3 separate regions of the Homo sapiens genome follow, and regions 2 and 3 are each linked to region 1. A link means that fine-mapping ties the variant in region 1 to the expression of a gene that starts in the linked region. Tissue or cell type: whole blood. Region 1 holds a variant in brackets; each other region holds the start of a gene. Each region is shown on its reference strand, or each on the opposite one. Region 1 has its middle 44 kb from the start of IKZF1. Region 2 holds the start of INSC (INSC spindle orientation adaptor protein). Region 3 holds the start of DOK4 (docking protein 4).

Region 1 (2,803 bases):
CTTTTTATTATTTCCTAAACAATACAATATAACAATAGCATTTACAAGGTGTTAGATATTGCAAGTAATCTAAAGATAATTTAAATTATACAGGAGGATGTGCATAAGTTATAGACAAATACTTCACCACTTTATATCAGGGACTGAACATCTACAGATTTTAGTAGTCACAGTTGGTCCTGAAGCAATTCCCCACAAAAACTGAGGGACAATTCAATACGCTATCACCAGGAAATACAGCTTAGATTTAAAGATACAATTGTTGAAATTAAAAAGACAAGAAAGATATACCATGCAAACAATAACCATGAGAGAACAGGAATGGCTGTACAAATAGCAGGTAAAATAGACTTTAAGACAAAAAAAATTATAGGAGACAATGACAGACACTTCACAATGACAAAAGGGTCAACACATCAGGAAGATATATAATTTAAGTGCATATGCACTTAAAAACAGCCAAAAAATACATGAAGCAAAAACTGAATTGAAAGGAGAAATATGTATTTCATCAATAATAGTTGAAAACTGTAATACCCTCTTCAATAACTGACAGAACAACTAGTCAGAAAATAGCAGGAATATAGAAGACTTGAACAACATCTCCCCCAGCTCAACTTAACTGACTTTTGTAGAACACTCCACCCACTGACATATTCTTCTCAACTGAATGTGGAACAGTCTTCATCAAATAAATCATATGCTGGGTCACAAAATATTCTCAATAAATCTAAGAGACTGAAGTCATATAAAATATATTCTCTACCATAATGGAATTAAATGAGAGATCCACAATAGGAAGAAATCTAGAAAAACCCCAAGTAATTGGAAATTAAGCAGCACGTTACCAAATTAACCAGTGGGTCAAAGGAAAAAAATCATGTGGGAAATTGTAAAATATTTTAAATGGAATTAAAATGAAAACACAACATACCAAAATTTATAGGACACAGTTCAAATAGAGCTTACAGGGAAATTTACATCTTTAACATGCATACCAGAAAATAACAATGTCTTAGAGCAACAACTGAGGCTTTCAGCTTTCGGCTTTCAGATACTAGAAAAAGCAAACTAAAGCTAAAGAGAGCAGAAGAAAGGGCATATATTTTGTGCTAACACTATACAGGGCATTGGACACTCTTGCAGTACAATGTAGAATGGTACATAGAATAGAAATCAAGAAACATTTCTTCACAGGACCAAATAGTAAATAGTTCAGGCTTTCTGAGCCATAAAATCTCTGTAGCAGCTACTCAACTCCGCAATTATAGCATGAAAAAGACATAGACATTGAGTATGAATGCATATGACTGTATGTCCAAGAAGTTTTATTTATGAGCACCGAAATTTGAGTTTTCTATAATTTCTACATGTCAGGAAATAGTATGCTTGTTTTGAGGTTTTTGCAACCATTTAAAAAAATGTAAAAACCATTCTTAGTTCACAATTGAATACTAACAGGGA[C/G]TAGCCCAAATGTGGTCCATTGCCATAGTTTGCTCATCCCTACCTGATTGATAGAGTCAAAAAAAAAAGAAAGAAAGAAAGAAAGAAGAAAAAGGAAGAAAGAAACCATAAGCATTGATCCCCACTGAGGAAGGGACTGTATCTTTTTAGTTCTGTATCTTCAGCCAGTTAATACATGAGATAACAGAGTTTAGGAGAAGTGGTGGCATCCCATGGAATCTCTAGGATGAAAGAGAAGTAGCTGGACTGACTTGCTGGTACAGTTTATAGAAATAGGATTACTTAGTTCTGGTAAATCTTTAGAGGGAAGGAACTAAAGATGAAATCTAACATAGTAAAATTTCATTCATAGTAAGTACCTAATATATTTATTTTATTTAATCATCACAAACCTTCCATTTTACAGTATTCCGCCTCAAGATCCCATAAGTATTAAATGGCCAAAGCAGGAATAGAAGAGGGTGGTAGCTTAAAGCTCAATTCTTTTTCCAGGAAGCCGAAAATAAATGGTGGTCATGAGCTCATCCTCTGCTGTCTCCATGCTTCTCTTTCAGTATTAACACATAGAGATCACAGTTAGGAAAGCATGAGCCTGGATCCCAGCAACAGCCCTGGGCTACTTCTTGCAGATCCTCATCACTGCCACTTAATGTGTATGAGCCTCAAAATTCTCTGGCTGTGTCATGGCAATGATAATGACTCTACCTATATCCCTGATAATTAGGAAGATCAAGTAAGATCATGAGAGTGAGAGTGTTTTGAAAAGTACAAAATATGATACAAATAGATGGTGGAACTTTTTTTTCATTCTTTATTGAGTTGGGCCTTATTTTTTTTCCAGAATGGACACATCTTTGTGAATCAATCACTGTGCTTTATAAGCATGTGTCAGCTTTTTCTACATGTGATGCGTGCCTGGATGCAGCCCTTGTTTATGGGCAGGCCTCAGTGTGGGAGAGATCTCTATCTGTGGGTATTCAGATAACTAGGACACCCTGTTCTGTTTATAAGTCAATCTTTTACTGATGGGATTTTGACTTTTTCCCTCCTAGTAGCATATTATGGACAATATTTGTTACTGGCATGACTAACTATAAAGTTAGAATACTCAGCACCCTCTTCCTAAATTATAGCAGCAATGATGGTAGAAAACACTCTTTTACAAAAGAGATATCTGACTTTCTCTGGTTTTGAATCTAATGAACATCAGGATGCTTGAAGTTTAAGGTTAGATAAGTATCAAGAAGCTGAATGCTTATCTGGAAACTTTGAACTTTCAGTGCCTATTTGGGTAGAAAATGTCATGATTATACTTTGTTGCCTGATTTCCATAACTTCC
Region 2 (2,803 bases), not on the chromosome of region 1:
CGACTCATTGGTTCAAGCTATTCTCTTGCCTCAGCCTCCTGAGTAGCTGGGGTAACAGGCACATGACAACTCGCCCAGTTAATTTTTGTATTATTAGTAGAGATGGGGTTTCACCATGTCGGCCAGGATGGACTTAATCTCCGGACTTTGTGATCTATCCACCTTGGCCTCCCAAAGAGCTGGGATTACAGGCGTGAGCCACCACTCCCGGCTGAGACTATTCTTATCATACCACCTGCCCTACCGGAAACAGACTCAGAGAGAAGATTCTGCAAACAGTCTGTAAGACTGTGGTTTCAGTGGTAATGCCCAGCCAGGCGGCACCAAGCCCTGTCCCCAGCCCTAGACAGCACTTGTTGAAACAGGAACTGAGGCCCCTCTCAGGGAACTTGGGGAGTAGAATCAGGCTGTTCTGGATGACTGGAGGGTAGAGTTGAAGCTGGCTTGTCTGAGAGGAATGATTTGGCCACCTTCTGAGCCCTGGGCCCCCAGAGAGCTGAGGAGGAGAGTTAATATCAGAGAGCTACTGTGTGTGTTCGAGTCCAGGGAGCAGCAGTTAGCTTCAGCCAGAGCCTGAAAAAAGAAATAGAGATTATTAGCATTAAGGAAGAGAAGGCTGCAGTGGGACCTCGGCGTGGTCGTTTTGTCATGGGGACTGAGTTGAGCTCCTTCTCCCTGAATACATATTGTGAGCAAATTGACATAGTTTGCATGTGAGAGATTTAGGTTAGATGTCAAGGAGATCTTTCTGTCAGTAAGAGAGTTCAAGCTTTGGAACAGGGCTCAAGGGAGACCAGGGGCTGCCTTTGCTTGAGGACCTCCAAGAATAGGTCAAGATTCTCTGGGCTCTGGGAGCCTCATAGCAAGATGGCGGAGGCGGGGGAGGGGGAGTTGTATGAAATGATCTGGAAGCTTTCTTCCAGGTCAAAAATGCCACATTCCCGAGCTTTTGGGTAGGAATCAAGTTCCTCTAGATTTAGCTATTTGACAGAGTCCAGGACGGGGGTGGGGGGTGGGGGGTGGGGTCTGATCTTATGTGCCGAAGTTAGAAGGAGTTTCTGCAACAACCCCTCGTCATTTTTGGCAGGTCCAAGATGTGGAGGGTGACTTAGGTGTGTGTGAGCAAGGTTCCAGAGGGAAGCACCTGCGGTGAATAAACCGTCTCATTCTAGGCGTTTGGGGTCTATCAAAGCTGGGTGGCTTCCTCCTTCCTAGCAAGTGAACTGCACCCAAATCCCTCCTTGTTTTGTTTCAGCTCCAAGGGAAACGATCGCGGCACATTCCCTTCCCCTCTCCAGATGTTGGCATGCGGGGCACCTTGTGGGCGACCCCGCCTGGACGGCTTCGCGGCTCCCGGGCGATCACCCTGGTGCCTGCCGCCTGGCCCGGGGGAGCCCGGTCTCTAATTAGGCCTGACCGCGTCCCCATTCCAGCGCTCCTGCAGATGGGAGGGAGGGCCATGTTTCCCCCCCCAGGGGCACCGAAATAGCCTCGTAGTCCCGCGGAGACAGCAGGCAGCCGTGGCTGACGCGGGACCAAGGCTTGGCAGGGAGCGCGCTGCTGTGGAAGGTCCTTGGGAGGCTGCGACCGCCTCGGAGAGGGCGGGCGGGGGAGAACGGGGCGGGGGGTGGGGCGGGGGCCAGGGGCGGCCTCTCGGGCTGGGCCGGCAGAGCGGCCACTTTGCGCGCGGCCTCTGGAGCTCCAGCTGCGCCCCGCCACCACTGGCCGCTCGCACTACCAGCCTGTCTCGCACGCTAAGTAAGTAGACAGCTCCCCTAGCTGGATTCAGGGGGCTGGTGATGCCTCTGCTAGCCTAGTTGGGAACAGTGCAGGTTTGTCACTAATTGGATAGTAGGTGTAAGTGTGTCAGTGGGAGTGCTTGTGAAGGGGAGCTTGCGCCAGTGTGAGGGAGTGTGTCTGGATGGGATGTCCACATGTGGAATTTTCTAGCATGTGCCCCAGGGTGCGAGTGTGGGTGAACGAGTGTGTCAGAGTGTGTGGTGGCCTGGAGTGGGCCACAGGTATTTGCCTGTGTGGCACCTGCTGCCCTGGGTGCACTGTGTCTGTACCTGTGGAAATGCCTGTGTGTGTGGCAGGAAGGCCCCCAGGTGGGCTGAGCCAGTCCACATGTGGATGAGTGGATGTGCCAGTGTGAACCCAGGAAGGCAGAAATTGGGGCTAGGGAGTGTTATCTGAACTCAGGCTTTCTAAGGTGACCTGACTTGTCCCAGCTGGGGTGTCTTCTCTGTGGGTCATTCAGCTTTGGTTTCTCAGGGCTTGGAGAAGGACAGAAGCTCAGAGCCCTCACACAACACTGGAGTGAATGTGGCTCTGACTAACCCCATCTGGCTAGACCAGGGTCAGGGAGACAGCTTGGGAGACCCCACTCTTAAACCAGGAGAAGAGACAGGAGGCCAGGGGATGAGTGGACCATATGGCCATGGCCACCCACAAACACTCGCAGTGCACCCACGCTTACATGCTCAGCATACACACATTCCTGTCCATGTGCACCAGTCTTGCACACACTCTTCTCAGGATAGCCATGCAACCATTCACACTTTCAACATGTATACCTGTGGACAACGACATGTATGCAACATGCACCCACTTTGTTCAATGCATATGCGCAAATGTATCCCTGGTGTGGCCCCACCCTCAGCCGCTAGCCTCCTCCCACTTTTGCCCCTTTTAATCTATATATTATACCTCTGACAATGGGTCCAAGAAACTGGCCTCAGTGGGGAATATTTTAAGTCAGGGACTTTGGCTGTGGGGGTCAGGGCAGATGGTGATGTGGTGC
Region 3 (2,660 bases), not on the chromosome of region 1:
TCACAACATCAGATGCGGCTGTCTTCATCGCACATCACCATGGGATTTTCTTGTTCTTACATCTGTCCATTTGTTTCTGGCCACAGAGAGACATCTGGAATGTCAGCTCCCTGGTGGCTCGGCCTCGTCTGTCTAGTTAACAGCTCTATCCCAGCTCCCAGAATGGTGCCCGGTGGGAAGGAGATGCTCAATATTTGGGGGCTGAACACGTAATTCTCTCCAGGACTTGTCCTCCTCCCCATCCTTTCTTCCACCACCACCAGCCTCCATCTGGCTGGACCTGGCTCAGCTTCCAGAGGTGCGTGAGCCACAGTGGGCTCCCAGCTCCTGGGTCTCAGCGCTGACTGGCATGGCCAGCAGGCTGTTGTTACTGGAGAACCAGCTGTGCCCAAGACCCGCAGTTTGGTTCAGAGCTGCCTCAGGGAAGAGCATGCTGCTGACATCGAGGCCAGGCCTAGTTGGGCGGCCCCACCTTGGCCAGGGTTGTGGGGTGAGGTCATGCCCAGCCCTGCTGCCCTGCCCAGGAGGGAAGTGCTGGGAGTAACCAGTACCAGCACAGCAAGGCAAGCAACTGGGGAGAGGAGGCACAGCTCCTGGGATCAGAGTTGGGGGTGGGGGCAGGAAGAGCCTGTACCAGCGCCACATCCCTCTGAAAGGGTCCAGGAAAGAACCTGCCCTAAGCAAGCCCACCTCACACTGCCCAAGTGGAGTCTCCTAGAGATACTGCCAGGCCCCTCGCTGCCCTGGCCATCAGACCCCTCCAACCCACACCCTCCATCCAAGCGGAAGCGCCCCAGCAACTGACGTGTCCCCATGGCTTGGGGCAGGCAGGCTGCACAGAGCCCCTGCTCTGCCACATCACCCAGGTGCCCAGCCTCGGCTCATGCCCCTTTTCAGTAATAGAAAGCATGTAACTGGATCTAGGGCCTTGCGGGCCCTGGGGGAGAAGGTGGACAGGACCTTGGGGGCCAATGGAGAAAGGTTCAAGGACAGGAGGCAGCTGGCCATGAGTTTGGGCTGTGGGGAGAAACCCCATAGGCAGGAGGGGGTCGGCAGTGGGGGCCAGCTGGGGTACAGAAAATCATCTCTTGGAATTTGGAGGAGGTGAGCGAACAGGAGGCCCCGGGGAGGAGCAGGAAGGCAGAGAGAAGGTTGGGAGCTGCCAGGGGCTGGGTTATGCCCCTTCCGGGGGGGCAGGCCCGGGAGCGCAGGGCCTGGGTTGCTCGGATGAGGTTTGTGTGGGTGCGGGTGAGGTCAGCTCGCGACCTGGGCTCCCCCGGAGAGGAAAGCTGCGGGTGGAGAGAGCGCAGGGAGTTTCAGGGCCCAGGCACTGGCTTTTGGGGGGCGGGTCTCTAAGCTCCCCACCCGAGAGTAGGAAGGTCCCATGGGACGGAGCGTCCTCAGGTTCAGGAAGTGACTGAGGGTCCTCAGGGGTGGGAGTCGCCGAGACTCTTGCAGGCTCTGGGCGGCCTATGTCCCCCTCCCTGCCTCACGCCCCCCAATTTACCTGGGCGCCGAGGCCCGGGCCAGGAGCGCCTGCTCAGCGGCGCCGCGGAGCAGGCTCATGCCCGCGTCACGGCGCGGCTGGCGGGGGCGGCAGGGCGGCGGCGGCGCCGGGCTCCAGGCGGGGACGGCGAGGGAGGCGCGGCCGCAGGGCTAGGGATCGGGCTCCGGCTGGGGCTCCGGCTGGGACTCCGCTCCGCTCCCCCCTCCGCCAGGTCTCGCCGCTGCGCCCCGCCCCCTGCCCCGCCCTGGCGGCCGGCCCCCGCCGTATTCCTCCGAGCCGCGGGACGCGCGATTCTGCCCTGGCGCCCTGGCACCCCCGCACCCGCTTCAGGTCGCCCCCGGTACCCCCAGCTCATTCCCACCGCCCCTCCCTGGGCCCCAAAGCCCACATGGCCTCTCAGCCCCTGAAAGCTGAACTCCACATCAGCTCCCAGCCCCCACATCTCAACCCCTTCACTTCTTCAGGAATCACATACACACCCATACGCCACATCAGCTCCCAGCCCCCATATCTCAATTCCTTCACTTCTTCAGGAATCACATACACACCCATTGCTCCCCTAACCCCATCATGACTCTCTGGGCCCTCACAGCCCAGCTCTCCCAGCCCCACAGTGACCTCCTCTGCTACCCCTCCTCAAGTAGCCGCACCAGCACCTCTGTCTTCCCTGGTCTCCTCTCCACCCTCAAAACATCCAGTTCTCCCATTCTAGGTCCCCCTGAGACTTTGCCCTCAAGCTCAAACTTCATTCCCCTTCATTGCTGCCCCCACCCAGCCCCCAACCCCCTCACCTCTGCCCTTCGGGCCTGTGCAGTGGTTGACTCACTGATCTGTCGGAATCCCCAGTCACAGGCCTCAGCTGTGCCAGGCAGGGACAAGAGAAGTTGCCCAGTGCCTCCTCTGGGGAGGAGCTGTCCCCCCTCTGGTTTTCACGTCTGTACCTTTTTACACCAGGGCTTCTCAAAGTGTAGTCCCTGGACCAGAAGCTTCCCATCACCTTGAAACTTGTTAGAAATGCAAATTCCCTGCCCTACTCAGACCTATGAAATCAGAATTTTTGGGGGTTTCCAGCAGAAATGTGTGTTTTAACAGGCCAGGTGATTCTGATGCACACGAATGTGTGAGAACCACTGCTTTAGACCATATATACAAA

The links. PIP is the estimated chance that this variant, and not a neighbour inherited with it, causes the effect. A credible set is the group of variants that fine-mapping cannot tell apart.
Region 2: it holds the start of INSC, and the variant in region 1 is the best candidate, but not a certain one, in a credible set for the expression of INSC in whole blood (TOPMed, PIP 0.65).
Region 3: DOK4 starts here. The variant in region 1 is the best candidate, but not a certain one, in a credible set for the expression of DOK4 in whole blood (TOPMed, PIP 0.50).

What each region holds. Positions count from the first base shown.
Region 1 is chr7:50,259,397-50,262,199 of GRCh38, forward strand. No RefSeq gene overlaps it. Among named protein-coding and RNA genes, the nearest start is that of IKZF1, 44 kb to the right of the region's middle. The variant C/G (reference allele first, on the strand shown) is at 1,465.
Region 2 is chr11:15,113,246-15,116,048 of GRCh38, forward strand. INSC (INSC spindle orientation adaptor protein) reads left to right here and starts at 1,678. Exons shown (of 13, transcript NM_001042536.3): 1 at 1,678-1,758. RefSeq lists enhancers at 151-200, 852-1,385.
Region 3 is chr16:57,484,798-57,487,457 of GRCh38, forward strand. It overlaps DOK4 (docking protein 4), which reads right to left and starts at 1,696. Exons shown (of 9, transcript NM_018110.5): 1 at 1,508-1,696. RefSeq lists an enhancer at 949-1,745 and a silencer at 1,577-1,876.